Linked DNA regions of Homo sapiens. The protein of the gene in region 1 purifies or fractionates together with the protein of each later gene. This does not show direct contact. Each region holds a gene or a part of one and is shown in the gene's direction. Other genes may lie near its edges.

Region 1 (7,022 bases):
GAAGCACACTGGAAACAAAGTTAAGTGAATTTAGGAATACATAATGCTGGATGCAGGGCCCGCATTCCTCTTATCCTTAGAAGACTGGAAGACTCAACTCTGAGGAACTGACCAGCCCAGGAGGAGCAATCCAAGATAGTGACATCAGAGGTTCCCCAGTAAAGGCCCACCCAGAGCACCCTAAGTGAAGCCCAGAGTCTATATGCTTCACCCACGTATACAGATCTAAAAAGCTTTTTTGTCTTTTCATTCATAAGAGTAGACAGAAAAGAATGACCAGACTTTGGAAGAAAGCTCAGAAGTGATAGAGACAGAAGCAAGCAGAAAAGCAATTTGAAGTAAAACAGCTCAGAAGTGATAAGAGACAAAAGCAAGCAGAAAAGCAATTTGAAGTAAAACAACAGAAAATTTCAAGAAAGCAAGAATCAGTGAACTTGGAAAGAAAAAATGCCTACATAATATGCTTGTTATGTGAATTAGCTCATTAACTAGTAGTAAGTACAATTTAACAAGTATTAATGTAGAAGTATTTTTTTCCCTAGGAAAGAGGAGCCAGAAAAGCAGTAAATGTATGACCTTCAGTTAAGAAAAGGTCATGGCTTCACTGCTATGCTGGCGGCAAGTGTCTTTCAGATTTTTTCATTGATTCAAGTGTATATTCCAGGGTTCCTTCCCCAGAGAGGCATACCCCAAGTTCTGTGTAGCCATCGACTGAGGACAGGTAGAGTCACCTATCCTACCCACGAATTGGCAGCCTTGTGGTTTAGATGGATTTCTACTTCCATGTGTTATTTCAGCATCTCTTAGCTCTGTTCTTAGACTTTGGCTGGCATTTCTATTATTTTTTTAAGTTTTGCTGAAGTAGAATTGACACTGAATTACACTTACAAAGTATAATTCGATAAATTTGGTTCATATATATACACATCTATATATGCATATTTATAGATATATATGTGCTATAATATATACTACATATAGTATAATATATAGTATACATATTTTTGTTTCCATAGAAACAAAAATAAAAGGAATTACTATGTACTATATACTATATATATCTACTATATACTACGTAGTATGTACTACATAGTACATATAGTACATATAGTACATACTGTACTATGTAGTATATAGTAATATATATAGTACATAACTATATATGTACTACATAGTACATACTATGTAGTATATGGTAGATATATATACCATAGTATACTATATACTAAAAATGGCTGGCTACCTCTGTTTGTCAATATATATTTTAATATATTTTTGCAAGTAATAGAAATGCCAGCAAAAGTCTAAGAACAGGGCTAAGTGGTGGGAAAACTACATACTATATACTATATAGTATCTATACTAATTATATAGATTTGTATATATACATATATGTATACATACACACACACACACACACACACACACACAATGAAGCCATCACCACAATCAAGACAATAAATATATCCACTATCCACAAAGGTTGCCTTGTGCATCTTTGATTCCTTCCTGGTCTCCAGCCCCTACTCCCATTCCCAGGCTACTCTATTATAATTTTTGAGTATTTTTAACATCTCTATAGTAGTCTCCAGCTATGCTGAGAGCAATCTGAGTGGTCAAAATTAACTGTCCAGGAAGAGCAGAAATGAACAACTCAGTAGAACACTTGGAAGAAGAAAATGAGAAAATCCCCCATACAACTAAATAAAAGGCTGGGCGCAGAGGCACACACCTGTTATCCCAGCACTTTGGGAAACCAAGGAGAGTGGATCACCTCAGGTCAGGAGTTCGAGACCAGCCTGGCCAACATGGTGAAAAGCCATCTCTACTAAAAATACATAAATTAGCCATGCTTAGTGGCAGGCACCTGTAATTCCAGCTACTTGGGAGGCTGAGGCAGGAGAATCACTTGAACCCAGGAGGCGGAGGTTGCAATGAGTTGAGATCAGGCCATTGCTCTCCAGCGTGGGTGATAAGAGCGAAACTCCATGCTTAAAAAAAAAAGACAAATGGAAAATAGTACAGAAAAAAGGAAGAGAACATGTTTAGAAGTTCAAACATCCAAATAATAAAAGTTCCAGGAAGGGAGAAAAAAGAAAATGGAGGAGGGAGGAAATCATGAATGAAATCATTTAAAATTTTTTCCCAAATTGAAGGAAACAAGTGTCCAGATTGCAAGGGCCAACTGAGTGTCCAGTACAATGGATAAAAATAAATCCATTATCAACACATCACTAACATTTCAAAATCTTCATGGAGAAGATTCTGTAAGTTTCTGGGGAGAGAGAGAAAAAATACATCACATACAGAGGATCACTTACCAGGACTGCTTTGAACTTAATAGCAATGGTAAAAGCAAACAGACGAGCAACTACTTCAAAATGTTGAAAAGAAAATTATTTCCAGCTTTCAATTCTATACTCAGACAAGCTATCAAACAGATAGAGGGAGCCAGCCATTTTTAGACATCCAGGGTCTCATTTACCTTCCATGTACCCTTTTCAAGAAGTTAGGATGTGCTCCACAGAAACAAAAATAAAACCAGGAAATGGAACACTTTGGAATGTAGAAAATGGGATAATCAACATAGAGGATAGGCAAGAGGAATTTCTGGGAGCATGGTCAAGTAGGATTCCAGCACCACAGTTGTGCTTCTTGATGTAGAGAGCAGTCAGTCCAGAATCAAGCAGCATGACTCACATTGATGGCTATTATCACTAAGATCCCTGCTGCCATTGTATCATCTTTTTAATCTGAGGACATTATGCCCAGGCAAGCCTGGCTCAGATTCTTACCGGTATTTGCCTTGTCTTGACCATGTGGTGATGAAATTCCTGCTCTCTTCTGTGCTGTGCTGACTGGACCAACTGAGGACACTCATTTTTACCCTTCTTTTTCAACCTATTCCTGAAAGCTGATGTTGGGCGTTGGTGAGCTTAAAGCAGAAAATAGCCTTCCTCCTTCCCATTTTTGCTATGTATTGGCCAGAAATCAGGTATCAATTCTACACTTTGATCTTTCCACATGCTTCAGTTGTGAGGAGCCCAGTATTCACTCATGACATTGCAAATTAACTTCTCTAGAAGGGATCCAGAAAGCCTGGAGAAGGTAAAGCCAGACTAGGGCTGTTTGGCTTTAATTAACAGCAGCATTGTTGCCCTTTTCCTTGCTAGATTCGTGCTTGCTGCTCAAATTGCCAAAATTAAATATTTAGGGCAATGTTCATGAGTGCTGGGAAAACTAAAGAGAATAAGCAGGAAGTCATTAGAGGCTATCTTGGTAGAGATGGGGAAGGAGAAGCAATTGGAGAGGGGCACATGGGGGCTTCTAAGACTTTTGTTTCATAACTTGAATGATGGGTACCCAGATGTATATTTTACTTTAATTTGTACATTCATATTTTATGCAGTTTCTATGTCTAATACGTATAAAAATTTCAGATTAAATGAAATACATGAAGGCACTGGCACCCTGCCTTTCAAATTGTAAAAGGTGTAAATTTTGCAAAATGCCTAAAGGGGCAGGTGAGGTCACAATGAGAATCTACACTATTGTACTTCGGGGTTCAACCCAAACAGAAGTTAACAGGAGAACTTAAATTATGTAGCGCATGATTTTTAATTGAGTATGGTACTGTAATTTTAATCCACATTTTCTGCTAGTTAACTATAAAATAACCCTTAAAACTGATCTAAAAGCCTATTTTAAAAATATAAGTTGCGGCCGGGCACGGTGGCTCACGCCTGTAATCCCAGCACTTTGGGAGGCCAAGGTGGGTGGATCACAAGGTGAGGAGATCAAGACCATCCCGGCCAACATGGTGAAACCCCGTCTCTACTGAAATACAAAAAAAAAAAAAAAAAAAATTAGCCAGGCGTGGTGGCGCGCACACGTAGTCCCAGCTTACTGGGGAGACTGAGGCAGGGGAATTGCTTGAACCAGGGAGGTGGAGGTTGCAGTGAGCTGAGATGGCACCACTGCACTCCAGCTTGGGGACAGAGCAAGAATCCATCTCAAAAAAAAAAAAGTTGCTTCCTGCTTGCCTATCAGAGTAATTCAGTCCAAAAGTCATTACGTGGGGCTGAGCAAGGCAGGCATCTGGGGAAGGTGGGGGCGAGAGAAAGGCTGGCAAGGTAGTAGCCCAGCAGGGGATACTGGAGCCCAAATGCAGTGAGGAGGGCCTCTGGGGGTAGGGACTTGTGCACAGCAGCAGCCTAGCAGGGGATGAGGAGGGCATCCTATTAGGGTGAAGGAAATGGTGGCACAGGTTTTTGGAATGGGAACAAAAGGTGAGCCTTACCCAGGAGGGAGGAAATGGTGCAGTGTAAGTTGCTTGAGCCCAAGAAGGGTAGGTTGGGGGAAAGGGGGAAGAGAAGACCATGCATGTGGGATGGTGGCAGTGGCACTCTGGCATTAGGTGGCAGAGCTCAGAGAGTAGAGTGTGTGCGCCGAATGGTGACAGCAAGAGGATTTTGATTACATAGTGAGAGAAGGGGTGATGATTATAAAAAGTAAATTTATTAAGGACAAGTGGGAACCAGACTTCTCACTGTTCAGCAAGAGTATTAAACCCATGTAAAGAGGGGAAATGAAAATAAACCCTGTAGTATTGGAATTGAATGTTAGGTAGCAGATTATATGGAGATTAATATAAAAGTCATACACACATACAACACCTAAATCCGTATGTATATACACTTGCAGCTTTGTCACTTAGAGGACCTGGGAACAGTGACAGTCCCATGGTGATTAGCATTTTTAGCACCCAGACCTTGGTTTCTAAAGCATTCCATCCAGATTATAGTTTCTAAATGCTATTCTCCATTAAAAGGACTAGGTTCCTTGGAGAAATAATTTTACAATGGACAATCTTAGCAAATACATTAATTGGGTAATCAAAGTTATCAATCACAATGGAACAAATTGCAGTTGCATCCACCTGATAGGATGCAATGTTAAGAGCTTACTATTCAACTCTAACAGGTAGTGGGAATTATTTTCTAGGTTTAGACTGTCATGATGCCTTTAAGTTTGGAGCCTCCTCTACAAAGTAGAGTTAACACATTACACATAAAGAAGCATGATTTTGCCTGTTCCTCAGGGACACCCTCTTACAGGTTGTTCATTTGGCCTCTTCACCACCAATCTTACTGCCCATCTACTATTCCAACCTGCTTAACTCACCCAGTTTCTGCTAGTTTTCAGCCTCCCTTTGGATAAGCACCCATCAGCATTTGATCAGGCTTCTGCTCAATGTCCTTCAAGTGGCTCTGGCCTTGCCTTGAGAGCAGGGTAAAGATAATCTCTTGTTTGTTGATAAGGAAAACTCAGGCTCAGCAAGGTTAATTAATCTGTACATTATGCAACTGGAATTTAAATCTAGTTTAACTCATTCCACTGTGGCATAAAAGGAGGTACACGTACCTATCTGTGATGACAATCCACTTTCTCATTTCCTTCATGTGACTTCTCACAATCACAATTGTCTTTGCTTATGTCTCCCATAGGAAAACGTCAATTATGACAGCAGGTAATTTTATCGGAAGTGTTTATAACTATATCCCAGTACGTGGAACGAAAAAGTTATCAAGAAATATTTATTGAATGTAAAAAAGGTTACCATTTTCTCAATGTGTATAACCTTTTTTTATTTTTTTAAGACTACAATGCAGCTAATTGCAAAAAAATTTTCCTTTCTTTAGGTATGTTATGCATAAAAGTGGATAATTTACATGATAAATGAAAATGGCCAATTCTTTAAGAGGAGAAGTACTAAAACTTTATAAAAATGTAAGTAATTATGTTGCCAATTTTATAAAAATGTTATTATATGACATGGATTGTTTAGAAATATATAATCTTTCTTTTTGAAGCTGCTGTATCTTGGACGAGACTATCCAAAAGGAGCAGACTATTTTAAAAAGCGTTTGAAGAACATTTTCCTTAAAAACAAAGATGTGAAGAATCCAGAGAAGATCAAAGAACTTATTGCACAGGGCGAATTTGTAATGAAAGAGCTAGAAGCTTTGTACTTCCTTAGGAAATACAGAGCTATGAAACAACGCTATTATTCAGATACCAACAAAACTAATTGATCATTACTACTTTAATTTAGCTATCAGTGCCAGCTGTTTATGTATACCAGATGTTGTAAAATAATTCTAACTTAAAATGGGAAGATATACATGTTGTGTAAAAAATCCCTGAGCTGCCCTACTGAACTAAATAGGTTTCAACTTCTGTTCATACGGAGAAAGTATCAGCAACTTTATGCTCAATTTTGATACAAACATAGCAATTTAGCTATACTACCGATCATAAATTAATGAGCACCCAATTTTGAATGAAAATATAATACACTTAATCCTCTAACTTAATAGGACTTAGCCAATTATTTTTAGCTTATTTCTCCATTTTACTGACAAGAGAATGCCATTTACCGAACATTTAATAAGCAAAATAATTTCTTACACACTTACTTCTCTTAACTTTTGAAAGGAATCCCTTATTTTTTCACCCAATTTGGTATATTAACAGCACATACTCAAGGTTCACTACAAAACAAACAGTTCCTGGTAATGATTTAAATGTAGTTATAGAAATAAATAATATGTATGGAGTCATTACTTCTGACCTTGAAATAGCCTGCTGGTGACTGGCATTAACATACATAACTAACTATTCAATTATTTCCATTATTAATGTTGCTGCTGCTACCTTTGGGCCTAAAACCAAGTCACCTGTTGTGTATCAATTACCTTCTTTGATAAAAGGAAATAAATAAATAATGTTATCCTATTTTTTTGTCATAAAGGCAGATTTGTTTTGCATCTACTTCTAAATATGGTTTTAAGTTTAAGCAAACACGCCTTTACATAATATCCACAGCACCTTTTAGAAATAAAGGATACTTCTAACAAGCTGCATAAAAGATTCACTGGTATACTATAGTGTCTATGGCTTATAAAGTATTCCATATCCATTTCGGGGCAAACAGTTCAAATTTCATGAATAAATACACA
Region 2 (7,879 bases), on another chromosome or scaffold:
TTGGGAGGCCAAGGTGGGCAGATCACCTGAGGTCAGGAGTTCTAGACCAGCCTGACCAACATGGAGACACCCCATGTCTACTAAAAATACAAAATTAGCCGGGCGTGGTGGTGCATGCCTGTAATCCCAGCTACTCCAGAGGCTGAGGCAGGAGAATCACTTGAACTTGGGAGGCAGAGGTTGCGGTGAGCCAAGATCGCACCACTGCACTCCAGCCTGGGCAACAAGAGCGAAACTCAGTCTCAAAAAATAAATAAATTAAATTAAAATGTTGGGATTTGACTTCCATCATAATTTGCTTCTGAATGGTTCACAAATCCCAATTTCTGGCCCAGATTTGCCTCCTGAGCTTCAGCTCTGTATAACCATATCTACCTCGTCACGTCCCAGATGGTGCCCAGGATGGCCCTGCCTGTGTTCGGCACCTTCAGGAAATGCACTACCCCCTGCCCCAGGTGTCCCACCAGAAGCCTCCACTCCTCATCTCCTGAGTCCACTTAATCACCATGCCCTGTCAGTACTACCTCTGGGCTGTCTTTTACTTCCATCCCTTCTTGGTATCCTTTCTGCCCCAACCTAGACCAGGCCACTGTCTCAACTCTGGACAGCCATACAGCGTAACTGTTCCTACCAATCTGTCCACAAGGAGCCATTCTCCACATGTTAAAGCCTCTCCCTAAAATGACTCAATCCTTGGGATCCATTCTTGGTTCTCCAGTCCCTTTGCCACCCTGCCCAGGCACCCTTCTAGCCATCCCCACTTTGTTGATCTGCTTCAATCCCTCAAACACACAGCATACTCTCACACAAGTGCTCCTACCACTGCCATGGAGATGCTTTCAATTCCACACACCTTCCCCTCATCTGACTGACACCTACTCAGTCTTCAGGTCCTACTTTACTTGGTAGCTGCTTCCGGAAGCCTTCCCTGCACCATCTAGTCCAGTTGAGGCGCCCACCCGAGAGTCCTATGTTCCTCCCACTTCCTTCTCACAGCACTGATCACTTTGTATGCTAATTGTCTTTATCATCTTCTTTCCCATTAGAGCTCTTCTGGGGTAAGGGACACCTCTGCCTTGTTCATTATAGCCCCTCAAGAATGCTCATTAAGTATCAATGAATGGATGAACAGAAGGACTAAGGATCTTTAGGAATCACTAATGTAACAATTCTTTAAAATGTGGGTTGGCAAGTCACAAGTGATAGCGTTTCAGGAGAGGGGCAAAGCAGAAAGGGCCGAGGGGTTGGGGAAGTCCTCCTGAAAGGAACTGGCCTGTCCAGAGTTAATGCTCAGTAATGCAGTGCCAGGCGTTACCACTATCTTTACAGTGCTGATCATCTGGACCCAGACCAAAGACCTGGTGCCAATGACTGTCCTGTAAAGGTAGTGGTAATTAGCAAAGCCAGGCAGATCAGCTCCCTCCAGAGTTTGGACAGAAGAATCCAAAGAGAAATGGCTAGTTAGCAGGAGTTTCCCTGACCCCTCATATCCACCCCCTTCTACGATTGTTGTGAGCAAGTCTGTTCCTTAAGCCCAAACGATGTCACCGGCAGGGGTGAAGGGCAGGCATGAGAGGGCTGGAAGAAGCACGTGATCTCGCCTGTAAGTGCAGGGAAGGTCACAAGGCTGGACGCCAATGTGCCCGGCCTACAGGAGAGCCAGGCCGCCCTGACTGCCAAGCGAATGGAACTGCACTCGCCCAGCGCTCTGAGTGGAATGCGCGGTCTGCAATCTGAGAATACTCCCCAGAAAAACGGATCCCTACCGCCTCGTGCCTTCCTGAAAGGAAACAGAGACTGCTACCCCCTCACTTACAGAAGGTCTCCTGGCCCACGCGCACTTTAATCATGATCCACTCCATCGTTCCTCCCAGGACAAAAAAGAAGGGCAGGAACCGGTAGATGCCAAATCGCTGCTTCCCGGGCACCCGCTGCAGAATCCGTCTCACCTGGGCCCTGGTGAACATGCTCGACCGAGGTCGTGGAGAGGGATATGACGGAACTAAGCACTGGATCGCCCGGACGCAGCCGAGACCGCCCCGCCCGTTCTCGCCGTGTACCGCGACCTGGGAGACTAGCGAGCGCCGTCCTCCGCCACTGTCTGGTAGGCGCACGAGTGCCGGAACTGGGCGCCGACCTTCTAAAGCGAGGCGGATCCGCCAATCAGACTGCAGCGGGGGCGTGCAGCTCCGCCAATCAGAGCACGGCAGGGCGCGCGTGCTCCCTGAAGCCGAGCAGGGCCTCGAAGGAGCTGGCGCAGGCGCCTCAGCTCTGGAGGTGGGACGGCCCAAAAGGGAAGGACAGCCCACGTGGCGCCGGCCCGGCCCCGCCCCCTGCCTCCCCAGTGCAGGTCTGAGCTCGCAGTTGGCAGCCGCGCCCCCTACTCTGCCACCGCCATTTTTATTCCTAATACCCAGATAGAAGTGATGACCCTCTCTGATGGACTATGTACAGCACCACATTCCAAAATGCAATTATGCAATGCCTTGCGTTTATTTCGGAGACGTGATTGGTGCCTAGACTTCTAAAGTAACAGAATTTGATATGGAGTGTTGAAAGCTGAACTTTATCAATTATCACAGCAAAAATCTAAGTAAGCGCCCCGTGAGAACCCTAAAATTAATAAAAGCTATCTTGTATGGGGCACTTACAGTTCCACAGGCACTTGTAGGCGCTTTATTCACAATAATCGCAGAAGAGCAGTATAAAGAGCATGCACTCTGTTACCAAACCACATCCCTGCTCTACAGGTGCTCCCTTAGCCCATCTGTGCCTCAATTCCCTAAGCCGTAAAACGGAGGCCTTGTTCTGACGCTGTGATAATTTAGTGCGGTAATAGGAATGATGCACTGAACACAACCCTGGAGCATAGTAACTGATTAATATTAGTTAGAATATTCATTATGATGATAATGATTGGCAGAGCCCTCGCTCTTCACATGTATTCCCAAACATGGTTTTTGTTTGTTTCTTGAGACAGGACCTCGCTCTGTCATCCAGGCTGAAGTGCAGTGGCGCAATCTCGGCTCACTGCAACCCCCTCCTCCCCGGCTCAAGCCATCCTCCCACCACTACAGGCGTGCACCACCACGCCCGGCTAATTTTTTAATTTTTTGTAGAGATGGGGGTCCCACTATATTGGCCAGGCTAGTCTCAAACTCCTGGGCTCAAGAGATCCTCCTGCCTTGGCCTCCCAAAGTGCTGTGATTACAGGCGTGAGCCACCGCGCCGAGTCTGAACGTGTATTGTTTATATGTAGTCTCTTAACTGACAGTTTAAGAGACTATGCCAGGTAGAAGCAGGGCTCTGACTTAAGAGACTTCACTTGTAATTGCGTCTTCTCATGCTGCTGTGCTTGCTGAAGATAACTGAAAGGGGCTGTCACCCCATTACCTAGGACTAAAGTAAAAACTGCAGGAACAGCTTTGAGAAAGGAGACAACTATTAGACAATCTAAGGAAGGTAAATGAAAGCTTAGAACCAATGAGACGATTTGGTGATATGGACACAAAATATACAAAAGCAGACTGGAGAGAGCAAGCAGGGCCCCAGAAAGGGTCATAGGGCCCGCAGTGAGCAGCCTGAGCTGCCGCCTGTACAACCGGCTTTGGAGGGCCAGCCCGGAAGCCTCTTTCTCCTCCGGGTAGACTCCGCCCAAGCATGCACACACACAGGCTTGATGCTCGCTCCCGTTTCTACAGGAGGTTTTGACGGCTGGATGCTGCAGGGCATCCCCTCGCCTGGAGGAGGTTCACTTGTGGCCAGGTTCCCAGCACACCCACTTGCTCACTGGGGCCCTGGGGACACCGCCACACTCGAGCCCATCCTACGGCCTCAATCCTTACCAGTCCCCAGGCCATGGACTGCCACACTGTAGGTCTTCAATCAAGGTTCAGTGGAGTTTCGAATGTACACACACCCTGAAAGACAGCGCGGCCACCTCAGAAAACAACGCGCGCCCAGCTGGCTCCCCTCCGACAGGGCCCACGGCTACTGGGTCGGCCTCCTCCGGACCCTGAGCACAGCCTGGTATGCGTGCGGGCTCGGAATACGGATCTGAGCAGAAGAAATGCGAGTGGAGAGCGGTTCTGCGCAGGAAAGAGGAATTTTGTTGGAAAGCCTGTCGACGTTGCTAGAAAAGACCACAGCATCTCACGAGGGGCGTGCGCCGGGAAACCGGGAGTTGACGGGTCAGTGCGGCCAGTTGCCGAGGTCCGAACCAAGCGGGCGCAGTGACCGTGGCCCACAACCCTGCAGCGCACGGCCCAGTCACCTGGTTAGCGGACGTCGGCTGCCCTGCAGGCCCCTCGGCCTCCCCCAGCGTGGGCCTGGCACCGGGAAGCGCGGGAAGGGCTCTTTATTTGTTAGACCAGTGAGTGGACTGGCCCGGGCTCTGGTCAGTGGGCAGTCAGTCCGAGCCCAGAGACCGGGGACCAGGACCCCGGGAAAGGAGAGCACCAGGACTAGGGGGAGGAGCGGAGGATCTGGGGTCAGAAGCATCCAGAGGCGCAGGGTAGGGCGGGCGGACCCGGGAGCGGAGAGGGCGGCAGAGGACCCGGGGGCCCGGGGGGTACCCGTCGCGCTCCGGCTGTCTCCTCTCGGCGCCTCGGCCGTCCGGAGCCTCTCAGGGACGGCCGCTCTTAGGCCCGCTGACTTCCAGGGCTGGGGCCAGGGAAAGGCGCCGCCATCGCCGGCGTGACGGCCGAAGGGGGGCGCAGAGTCCTCCCGGACCGCGCCGGAGACTGGCTGGGGGAGGGGGCTGGGGAGCCCTCCCCGCCCCGCCCCGCCCCGCCGGGTCCGGGGCCTCCCGCCCCCCGGGCCGAGGGGCGCGCCCATTGGCAGGCCGGGCTCCGCGCGCCGCACCCATTGGCCGGCCGCCGTGAGGAGCACGAGGCCACCGTGGCGGGCGCGCAGTCGGAGGGCGGCGGGCGGCGGGCGGCGGGCTGGCCGAGGGCAGCGCGGGCGGCGGGCGGCGCGCGGTGGGCATGGCGGGTGCGGGGCTGCGGGCGGCCGCTCGGCGCTGGCTGCTGTGCGGAGGCCACGGCGGGCCGCGAGCCGCCTCGTCCTCGCCCTCCTGCCCTGGGTGCGGCCCCCCGGGTCCCGGCGCCCACTGCCCCGGCGTCCCGCGCTCCGCGCCCGCCCAGGCACCCACCAGCGGCGCCGACCTCAGCGCGCACCTATGGGCTCGCTACCAGGACATGCGGAGACTGGTGCACGGTGGGTGAGCCGGGGCGGGACGTGCGCCGGGGTGTCTTCCGCGTGGACTGATGGACGGACCGAGCCCCAGGGTGCCGCTCCTCCGGGGAAACACCCAGTGGGGCTCGCCAGGGCCCCGGAGCGCAAGGGCCGGGCGGCTTTTCGCGAGAAGCTCCGGCCGTTCATCCCGGGGGCCTCTGGGGCGCCCCGACGCCCGGGGGCGGGCGGGAGGTTTGTTCCCCGGCTCGGTCTGCAGGAGCTCGGGGCTCCTCGAGCGGCTGCCGGAGTGCTGGGCCCCCGCCGACTTCCTTCGGGGTCCCGCCTGCCGTGAAGCCGCGGTGGAAACGCCCCCAACCCCTTGTTCTCGGCCAACCCTTAGTTGGGGCGGGAGAGTGCTGTGGACAAAGCCAGCGAGCGGCGCCGGGCGGAACGGGCTCCTAGGGACGGCCGGACCAAAGGGGACACCGGTTGGACTTCCCAGACACACCTCGATGTCGCCCTGGAGGTCCGGCCCCCTCTCAGCCCGGGCAGCGAAGGCTGGGAGAAGCCAAGTCACCCCCGCCCCCTGGAGCCCAGACTAGGGCTGCAAAGGGCACTTAACCTCCCTGTCCCTGCTCTCTCCCTCTGAGAAATGGCGTGAGGAGGCTGAGGCCCCTTCTTGGAGGGGGCCGGCTGGGGCGCACTAGTGAGGCCCCAGAGCTGAGAGTGCTGGACATCTGCCTGCTTGTCTCCGTGGGTCTAGTGGGGCCCTGCTTCTGCAGCAGACAGATATGGTTTGGGTCGTGACCCTATCACTGACCAGTTGGGTGGTCCCCCAGCAAGTCTCACCCTCTCTCAAGCATGAAACGCAGTCCTGGGGCCTCTCTGTCCCAGGGTTGGGTGATGACTGGAACCAGGCCAAGCAGGGCAGGAGAGCTTCCGGAGGAACCCCCAGGGGTGACGTGGCTTTTGTTGTCTGATAAAACAAAGTAGCCCTGTCTGGAAGATTCTAACTGGCTAGACAGGGGTTTTCACTCCGGCTTTGTGGGGTGGCGGAGAATCACTTCTTGACCAGTAAAGGCAGGATGGTAAAGGCCCCTGAGGAATGGTCATTTTGAAGCCTTGGGCATCTGTCCACCCTCGAGGTCCCAGGTTGAGTTTGTGTCTGTGGAGGGGCGGCCCAGCGTTATTTAAGAAGTCTTTGCTCTGGGCCCGGAGAAGACCCTCAGAGTATCCTGAGAAGCCTGCCTTGGAGGTTTCAGGGAGGACTACGGGGATCTACTGGACATTGTCCTCCTGGGCCTGCCTGCATCTTTGGAGCCTCACAGCCCTCTAAGCTCCTCTTGTCATACAAGGAGCAAAGTCATTCCCACCAAGATCCCATGGTGAGCACCAGCAGGAGCCAGCTTCACACCTCTGGGCGCCGAGGTCCGCTTTGGGCTAATGCCCACGGGCTGAGAGCAGTGCAACAGGTCCCTCAGTCCCCCAGCCCCCACCCACCTGGCCTCAGTGTGGTGACATTGGGAGGCTAGGCTGAGAGGCAGAGTGATTAATGCAGGTGGGGTGACTTGAATGGTGATCTCAACCCCGGTGCCTGTTACTGGGTGGTTTGGAGCAAGTGACTTCACCTCCCTGAGCCCCAGTTTCTTCCTCCGGACGATGGGGGAATAAGTGGGACTGCCTCACAGGATGGGAGTGAGGATTGAACAAGACAAGCCTCTAAGGCATCCACAAGTGTCACGGCTGCTAGGGAGCAGTTGGCCCTGGGACCTGGCACCATGGGCAGGTGTGGGAGCTAGGGCTGAGGAGAAAGGAGGGCAATTGCTGGACATGCTGAGTGGGACACACCCTCAGCTGCCCCACCCCCACCCCCCACCCACACCACCTATGGAAGGGAACAGGCTTCTGTCGCCCCAGAGCCAAGGTTCTTCTAGTCTAGAAATCAGGCCAGGCCACCAGGCCCTGTGGCTGTTTCCACATCCTGCTTTGTTCCTGGGAGGACTGTCTGCCCCTGGGCCCCTGGGAACATCCTTAGGGGCAGAGGTGAAGGCCTGGACCTAACCAGGACTCTGTGCCAGCAAGGGGCTGCACTGCCGAGCAGACCCTCCCAGGTCTTCTGCACCAAGAGTCACAGTCACAGTTGGTATCCGGGAACTCAGGGCCATGGGAAGGGCAAGGCCCAGGGTCCTAGTGACACACCAGAACCCTGGGCCTTGAGGGGTGGCTCAGAAGCAGCTCCCTAGAGCGTTGCAGTCAACTGTCTCACTTGCATCCAAGTGAAGACTCCTGTCTACACCCACAGATCTTCGGAGCAGCCGCTCTGTGCTGGCCTGGGGAACCAGCCACACCTGATCCCCCACCCACACCCTGAACTTGGCTCCAAAGGAAAGGGGTGGGAATGGAGCCCTGTGTCCCCAGAGTGCCTCTGAGGCAAGTGCTCTGGGCACGGAGCACATCAGCGAGATGTCTGCCTCTTGAGTGCAGCAGCTGCCAGGCACACTGTGGGGCTTCCCTGGCCCTCTGGCCTGGCAGCTCCTGCTTTGTCATCGGCACTGGGGTTGTGGCTGAGACAGGGATCCCCTGGAGTCTTAGAGCTGGGGCCCCTGCAAGGCAGGGGTACTAGATGTACCCTGTACATCTAGTCCTGCCTGCTCCCTTCTCCCTGCAGCCCCTGCTTCTGGAGGGACACTGGGAAATTGGGGAC
Region 3 (7,022 bases), on another chromosome or scaffold:
CAGAAAAGGCTTTCTACAGCAGTACCCCCGAGCCAAAGGCCATGTGTTCCAAAACCCCCGGGAGGTGCCTGAAACCGGGGACAGTACCAAACCCTTCACTTGCTGTGTTTTTTCCTGTACATACATGCCTGTGATAATGTTTATAAATTCAGTACAGTAAGCGATTAATAAGGCTGGGCGCAGTGGCTCACACCTGTAATCCCAGCACTTTGGGAGGCCGAGGCAGGCAGATCACTTGAGGCCAGGAACTTGAGACCAGCCTGGCCAGTGTGGTGAAACCCTGCCTCTACTATAGATAGAAAAATTAGCCAGGCATGGTGGCATGCACATGTAATCCAAGTTACTCAGGAGGCTGAGTCAGGAGAATCTCTTGAACTTGGGAGGCGGAGGTTGCAGTGAGCCAAGATCGTGCCACTGCACTCCAGCCTGGACAAGAGTGAGACCCCATCTCAAAACAAGTAATAGTAATCATAATTGGACGATGACACTCTACTGCAATAAAAGTCATGTGAATGCGGTTTGCTTCCCCCTTCCCTCAATATTTTATTATACTGTCCCTCACATAACAGAAACCATGGGAAACAAAACCAGGGGGAAGGAAGAATGGCGGCACTCACAGCTGCGGTTTATTACAGTGGAAGAATACAGGTTAAAATCAGCCCGGGGAAGAGGCGTGTGGGGCAGGGCGCAGGAGCCACCAATGGAAGGACCAGGAGTCCTTCTATTTGCTTTAGGTTGGTTTGGGTTGGTTTGGTTTTTTGGGTTTTTGTTTTGTTTTTTGTTTTTTTTTTTTTTGGTTTTTTGGTTTTTGAGATGGAGTCCCACTCTGGTGTGAGCTTCCGGCTGTCCTCTCCCGTTGGGGTCATGTGGACAGCCCAGTGAGTGTTTCCCCATCGAGGATGTGTGGCTGTCTCTATGGAGTGTTGACATCCAGGGAAGCTCACCTGAGCCTCGAGATCCAGAGATTTGATTGGGGGTTGGCCACAGAGACACAGCTGGCCCCACATGGCCAGCCTTAGTCTCCAGCCCTCCAGAGGTGGAGCGGGTGCTGTGCGGGCTTGGGTGTAAGGGATATTGGCCTGTAGTTTTGTTTTCTTGTGATATCTTTGGGCAATGCTGGCTTGATAAAATGTGTTGGGAAATGTTCCCTCCTATTTTTTTGGAAGACAGTGAAAAATTGGTGTTAATTCCTCTTTACATGTTTCATAGAATTCACAGTCAAGCTCTCTGCACCTGGGCTTTTCTTTGTGGCAAATTTTAAAGTTAACCATTTATGCCCAGTGTTCCATTATTGGAACACTAAGCTTGTGAGAGTTATTTATATCCTGCTGAAGGTCATTGCCAAGGTCTCATTTTTCACAAAAAAGATTTACAACCTCCAGCATAAATGGGTTAATCTCTGTACTTGTTACAGGTTTATTTTGATTTTGTTTCTTCTTGAGTCAGCTTTGGTAGTTTGTGTCTTTCTAGGAATTTGTCAGCTTCAATTAATTTATTTGATTTGTCGGCACGTGGTTTTTCATGGTATTGTAGGTAAAGCCGGATACTCCTTCGTTTTTCCTGTAAAGTCAGTAGTGATGTCTCCTCTTTCATTCCTGGTTTTAGTAATTTGAGTCTTCTCTCTTTGTTCCTTGTTGTATAGTCTAGCTAAAGGTTCTTCATACTTCTGGAATCTTCACAAGAAAAAGGAAAAGTTTTTCAATGTTGGGTCTTTTCAGAGAACAACTTTTGGTTTCATTTATTATCTCTGTGATTTTTCTCTGTTGAGTTTGTTTCTGCTCTCATGCTTTATTATTTCCTTCCATTTGCTTTAGGTTTGTTTGGGTTTTTTTGTTTTTGTTTTTGTTTTTTTTGAGACGGAGTCCTGCTCTGTCACCCAGGCTGGAGTGCAGTGGCACAGTCTCAGCTCACTGCAACCTCTGCCTCCCAGGTTCACATGATTCTCTTGCCGCAGCCTCCTGAGTAGCTGGGATTATAGGCGCACCACCACGCCCGGCTAATTTTTTTGTACTTTTAGTAGAGATGGGGTTTTGCCATGTTAGCCAGGCTGGTCTCAAACTCCTGACCTCAGGTGATCCGCCCACCTCGGCCTCCCAAAGTGCTGGGCTTACAGGTATGAGCCACCACACCCGGCCCCACTTGCTTTAGGTTTAGTTGACTCCTGTTGTCCAGGATCTTAAGACGAAAGGTCAGGTCACTGATTTGAGATCTTTCTTCTCTTGAGACAGGATTTCGCTCTCGGAAGTGGGAAGAGGTACTGGGGCAGGTGGGAATGTGAGTTCAGGAGCGGAGGCTGTGGCTGGTGGAAGGCGGCCAGCGGAGGAAATAGAATGCTATAAACCATAGAGGAGGAGGGGGAAGGCAGACGAGGGGTCACACCTGTCATGACATGAGCAGGAAGTCAGTACGATGCCCAAAGAGGATACGTTGAAGAGTTAGGATAACGCTGTTGTCTAATGACAGTGTAAAGTGGTTGCCGGGGAGGAGGGTCAGAGAACGAAATCTGTGGCTTTCATCATCAGGCCTGGTGTTCTGCTCAGCCTCTCTTAACCATACATTGCTTTGATAACTTTTAAACATTTTTGGTTATCTGTGGTCCTGGTTGTTGTCGGTTGCTAGGTCTAATGTCATAACTGTAATTACTTGCTATAATAAAGTGAGACAGGATGATATCCATTTGCTGTCTTTGTAAACGTGTGTCAATGGAAATCGTCACAGAATAATGGACAGTTTCTGCCAATTCTCTATTCTCTCTGGACTATACACAGAGAGACTAGAACAGTGAACCCCTAAGTCCCCATCACACAAGTGAATAAGATTCTGGTCTTCGTTGCTTCTCCATGTTGTGTTGTCGGGTTTGCAAGAGCATTTTAAGTCATCACGTCAGTCACGAACACTTCCCTGTGCCTCTCTGATGAGGACATCCGTGGTAACCTCCCCACTGGCGCTGTCACACCTGACAAGGTCAACAGCACTCCCCTCGCATCATGGAATGGGCAGTCTGTGTCCAGATGGCTCTAGTTGACCAAAAAGCAGCTTCTTACAGTTGACTTCTCCCCATTGACTTTGAACAGATTGTTATTATACGAAAGTCTCCTTTTTTCCACCATTTCATAACCTCTGGTTTGTTCTGTCTTCCCAGGCCATGAGTGCGGCTGTGTGCTTTATGATCGACGGTGGGTACGCGCCTTTGTCTGATTTCAGCCTAAGCTTTTTGTACTTTGCTGCATCCTATTCTTAAGTGATAAATATGTTTTGGGGGTTTCGGTTGTTTGGGCTTTTTTTGTTGGAGACGGGGTTTCACTCTTGGAGTGCAGTGGCATGATCATAGCTCACTGTAGCCTCGACCTCCTGGGTTCAAGTGATCTTCCCACCTTGGCCTCCTAAGTCGCTGGGACTGCCAGTACACACCGCCGGACCCAGCTAATGTTTTTGTGGTTGTTTGTTTAGACAGGGTCTCACTATGTTGCCCGGGCTAGTGTCAAACTCCTGGGCTCAAGCGATCCACCCATCTTAGCCTCCCAAAGTGCTGGGATTTCGGGCGTGAGCCCCCACACCCAGCCCATTAAATGATAAATGTGTTGTCATAAGCAATATAGAGGCATAGAGAGGAGCCCTGTTCCCCATCTGGGACCCCCCTGTCTCCTTAACTAGCCAGTGCTCATATTTTTTAAGTCCTAGTTTTCCCGCTAGTCAGCAGTAGAGTGTGGGCATCTTTCTGTGTCCCACCGACTGCGAGCTGGAGACAGCAGTGGTACCTCTCTCGGGGGGGTTCTGAGGATCGAATGAGGTCATGTCTGTGAAGCACCTGGCCCATGAGTGCTACGTAATGTTTGTTAAATAAACATACGACCTTCTGAGGTCTTTCTGGGGTAGGCAACCGTTTACCACCCTACAGGGTGTGCCTCGGTCAGCTTTTCACGGTGAGATAGGTCTTCGCCCTTTTTTCATCTGAAATGTAACCGGTTTTCTATCTTCTGTTTCTCTTCTATTTGAGGAGCAGAAGGGGGCCTGAGCATTCATTGTTTGTTTTCCCAGACCAGTGAAGTTTTCGTTTGAATACTGTTGTTCAGCGTCGCACAGTAAAATGAATCTTACTGGTATTTTTTGTCATGACTTGCCAGCCTCTGTCCACCCAACGTTGGATTTTTGCCGAAGACTGGACAGCATCGTTGGGCCCCAGCTCACAGTGCTGGCCTCTGACATCTGTGAACAGTTTAACATCAACAAGAGGATGTCCGGGTTTGTACTTTGCTTTCGGTTCACTTTCAGGCATTGAACGGCTTTTGAAATACACGTAGTTTTCACTTACAAATACGGGTGGTATTAACAGTCCTGTGTTCTCGTGGACTGTAGAGGATGGTGCTACGTGCCATTCAGGCCTCTGTCTGAAAGGGTCCCGGGGACAGTCACCCTGAGTGTTTCTGCCCCACGCTGGCAGCTGGGGCTGGGCCTTCTGGTAAATACCTTCCCTCAGCTCCCCCCGAATGGAACGTCCCATTTCACCAGCCCAGATTGTTACGTTCACTTGGACAGTAGTCATCGGCGTGGTCTTGGTGTGCACAGACTGAAAGCATTTTGCCTCTCGTTGTGTGAAAATGTGTAGGGGAAACTGGCTGGGATGTGGGGCACTGGGCCTGGGTACTCAGTCTGGCAGCCTGAAGTGTCTACACTGAGTGGGAGAGGCGGGATTCACTCCTCCGGCTCTCTAGACACTGAAATGTCCTTGAATTCTTTCTCCCTGGCTTTTTTTTTTTTTTTTTGAGACAAATTCCCACTCTGTCGCCCAGGCTGGAGTGTGCAGTGGCTTGATCTTGGCTCACTGCAGCCTCCGCCTCCCAGGCTCAAGCGATTCTCATGCCTCATCCTCTTGAGTAGCTGGGATTACAGGCGTGCACCACCATGCCCGGCTCCTTTTTGTATTTTTAGTAGAGACGGGGTTTCACCATGTTGGCCAGATTGGTCTTGAACTCCTGACCTCAAGTGATCCACCTGCCTCAGCCTCCCAAAGTGCTGGGATTACAGGTGTGAGCTACCGCACCCGGCCATGCTTATCTTTTCTCAATATAAAATAGTTATTATAAAGTGAAAGTGAGGCGATGGAAAGCACTTTGCGAAGTTGAAGTCCTGCTTTTAAATGGGCTCTCTACACATTTGAGAAGTTACTAAAAGGCTGTGAATTTCTGCATACGCTCATGGTCTTAATGTTCATACGTTGTTTTTTGGGTTTTTTTTTTTTTTTTTTTTAAGACAGAGTCTCAGTTGCCCAGGCTGGAGTGTGCAATGGTCTGTTCTCAGCTCACTGCAACCTCCGCCTCCCAGGTTCAAGCGATTCTCCTGCCTCAGCCTCCTGAGTAGCTGGGTGCCATCATGCCTGGCTAATTTTTGTAGAGACTGGGTTTTACCATGTTGGTCAGACTGGTCTCGAACTCCTGACCTCGTGATCCACCCACTTCGGCCTCCCAAAGTGCTGGGATGACAGGCGTGAGCCACCGCGCCCGGCCCATATGTTATTTCTGCATGGTCTTGTATAACCGTGGGCCTCTAAGAGCGCAGAAGCGAGCAAAGGTGAAAGCACCTCTAGGTTTTGTACAACAGTGTGTGGATTACTGCTGTCAACAGCTTACATCTTTGTTGCTTTTTGTTTTTATTTTTTGAGACAGAGTTTCACTCTTTCACCCAGGCTGGAGTGCAGTGGCATGATCTCAGCTCACTGCAACCTCCAGCCCCTGAGTTCATTCAAGCAATTCTCCTGCCTCAGCCTCCCGAGTAGCTGGGACTCCAGGCGTGTGCCACCACACTCAGCTAATAATTTTTGTATTTTTAGTAGAGACAGGGTTTTGCCATGTTGGCCAGGCTGGTCTTGAACTCCTGACCTCAGGTGATCCACCCACCTCGGCCTTCCAAAGTGCTAGCATTACAGGCATGAGCCACCATGCCCAGCCAACAGCTTATATCTTGACAGTGCTGCTGAATCATTGAATCCTTTGGCCGTGAAAATACCAGGTTTTCCTTTGTGAAGGAGGCAAAAGTGAGTTAAATCGGTTTGGATCATGCAGGTTATCAACTAACAGATGGAAAGTGACAAAGTGTAGTGACCATAGAGAACGTGTCACCTGTTTTGTTTTTTTGTGGGTTTGTTTTTGGAGACAGGGTCTCCTGCTGTCGCCCAGGCTGGAGTGCAGTGGTGCAATCATGGCTCACTGCAGCCTTGACCTCCCAGGCTGTAAGTGATCCTCCTACCTCAGCCTCCCCGGGAGCTAGGACTACAGGTGTGTGCCACCACGCCTGGCTAATTTTTGTATTTTTGGTAGAGGCGGGGTTTCGCCATGTGGCCTAGGCTGATCTCGAACTCCTGACCTCAAGTGATTTGCCTGCCTCAGCCTCCCAAAGTGCTGGGATTATAGGCGTGAGCCACTGCTCCTGGCCTCACAGAGTGTTTTGAGGATAGAAGCTTACACCCGATTTAAGTTCCTTGTCTACCCAGACAACTAAATTTACAACTCTTTCCAAACAGTTTTTCTTGTCATTATACTTTCCTTAACCTTAGGGAACTATGAAAACAAATTCTGGTTTTATAAGAAGTTTCTTTACATGTTCCTGGAAACTCAATCCTCCACGTTCTTTCTTTGCCTGGACGTAGAGTATTTCATGAGTACCCCATTGGTCCGGAGGTCGGATTTCTGGTACCCCCAGCCCTCCAGAACGTGGCTGCTAACCCTGAAGCAAGCAGAGGAGGCCTCTGAGCCCAGGGGCGGGGCTGTGCTCAGGCCCCATCCAGGCCCCAGGGTGGACACTGAGGGTGCAGGGAGGGGAGGGGAGGGGCCCCAGGAGCAGTGAGGCCCAGCTTTTCCCACTAGGTCCCCGAGGAGGTCACAGACTCTGACCTGGGAGGCAGCGTCGTAGCACTGCCTAGTCAGTTTAAGAAATAAAAAGGTACATCCCATTTAAAATGTTCATCAGACTGCAGTGGAAAAGGCGACTGCGTTTTACAGTGATGTCCACTGGGGATGATATGAGGG

The links.
Region 2: the proteins of ETFRF1 (region 1) and NT5DC2 purify together in Homo sapiens (affinity purification with mass spectrometry; 3 studies listed by BioGRID and IntAct, with this or other methods). This does not show direct contact.
Region 3: the proteins of ETFRF1 (region 1) and CCZ1 purify together in Homo sapiens (affinity purification with mass spectrometry, with the first as the bait; 2 studies listed by BioGRID). This does not show direct contact.

What each region holds. Positions count from the first base shown.
Region 1 is NC_000012.12:25,198,218-25,205,239, forward strand, and holds the end of ETFRF1 (electron transfer flavoprotein regulatory factor 1), read left to right. Parts: exon of another isoform or gene 1-5,615; intron 5,616-5,702; 5' UTR 5,703-5,739; coding exon 5,740-5,790; intron 5,791-5,873; coding exon 5,874-6,095; 3' UTR 6,096-6,926; downstream 6,927-7,022. UniProt on the Homo sapiens protein: Acts as a regulator of the electron transfer flavoprotein by promoting the removal of flavin from the ETF holoenzyme (composed of ETFA and ETFB).
Region 2 is NC_000003.12:52,530,844-52,538,722, reverse strand, and holds the start of NT5DC2 (5'-nucleotidase domain-containing protein 2), read left to right. Parts: upstream 1-4,865; 5' UTR 4,866-4,985; coding exon 4,986-5,217; intron 5,218-7,879. Other genes in the region: UQCC5 (ubiquinol-cytochrome c reductase complex assembly factor 5), read right to left, coding at 1,817-1,967. UniProt on the Homo sapiens protein: Promotes dephosphorylation of tyrosine 3-monooxygenase TH which decreases TH catalytic activity and leads to reduced synthesis of catecholamines including dopamine, noradrenaline and adrenaline.
Region 3 is NC_000007.14:5,915,725-5,922,746, forward strand, and holds part of CCZ1 (vacuolar fusion protein CCZ1 homolog), read left to right. Parts: intron 1-3,142; coding exon 3,143-3,176; intron 3,177-4,124; coding exon 4,125-4,242; intron 4,243-7,022. UniProt on the Homo sapiens protein: Acts in concert with MON1A, as a guanine exchange factor (GEF) for RAB7, promotes the exchange of GDP to GTP, converting it from an inactive GDP-bound form into an active GTP-bound form.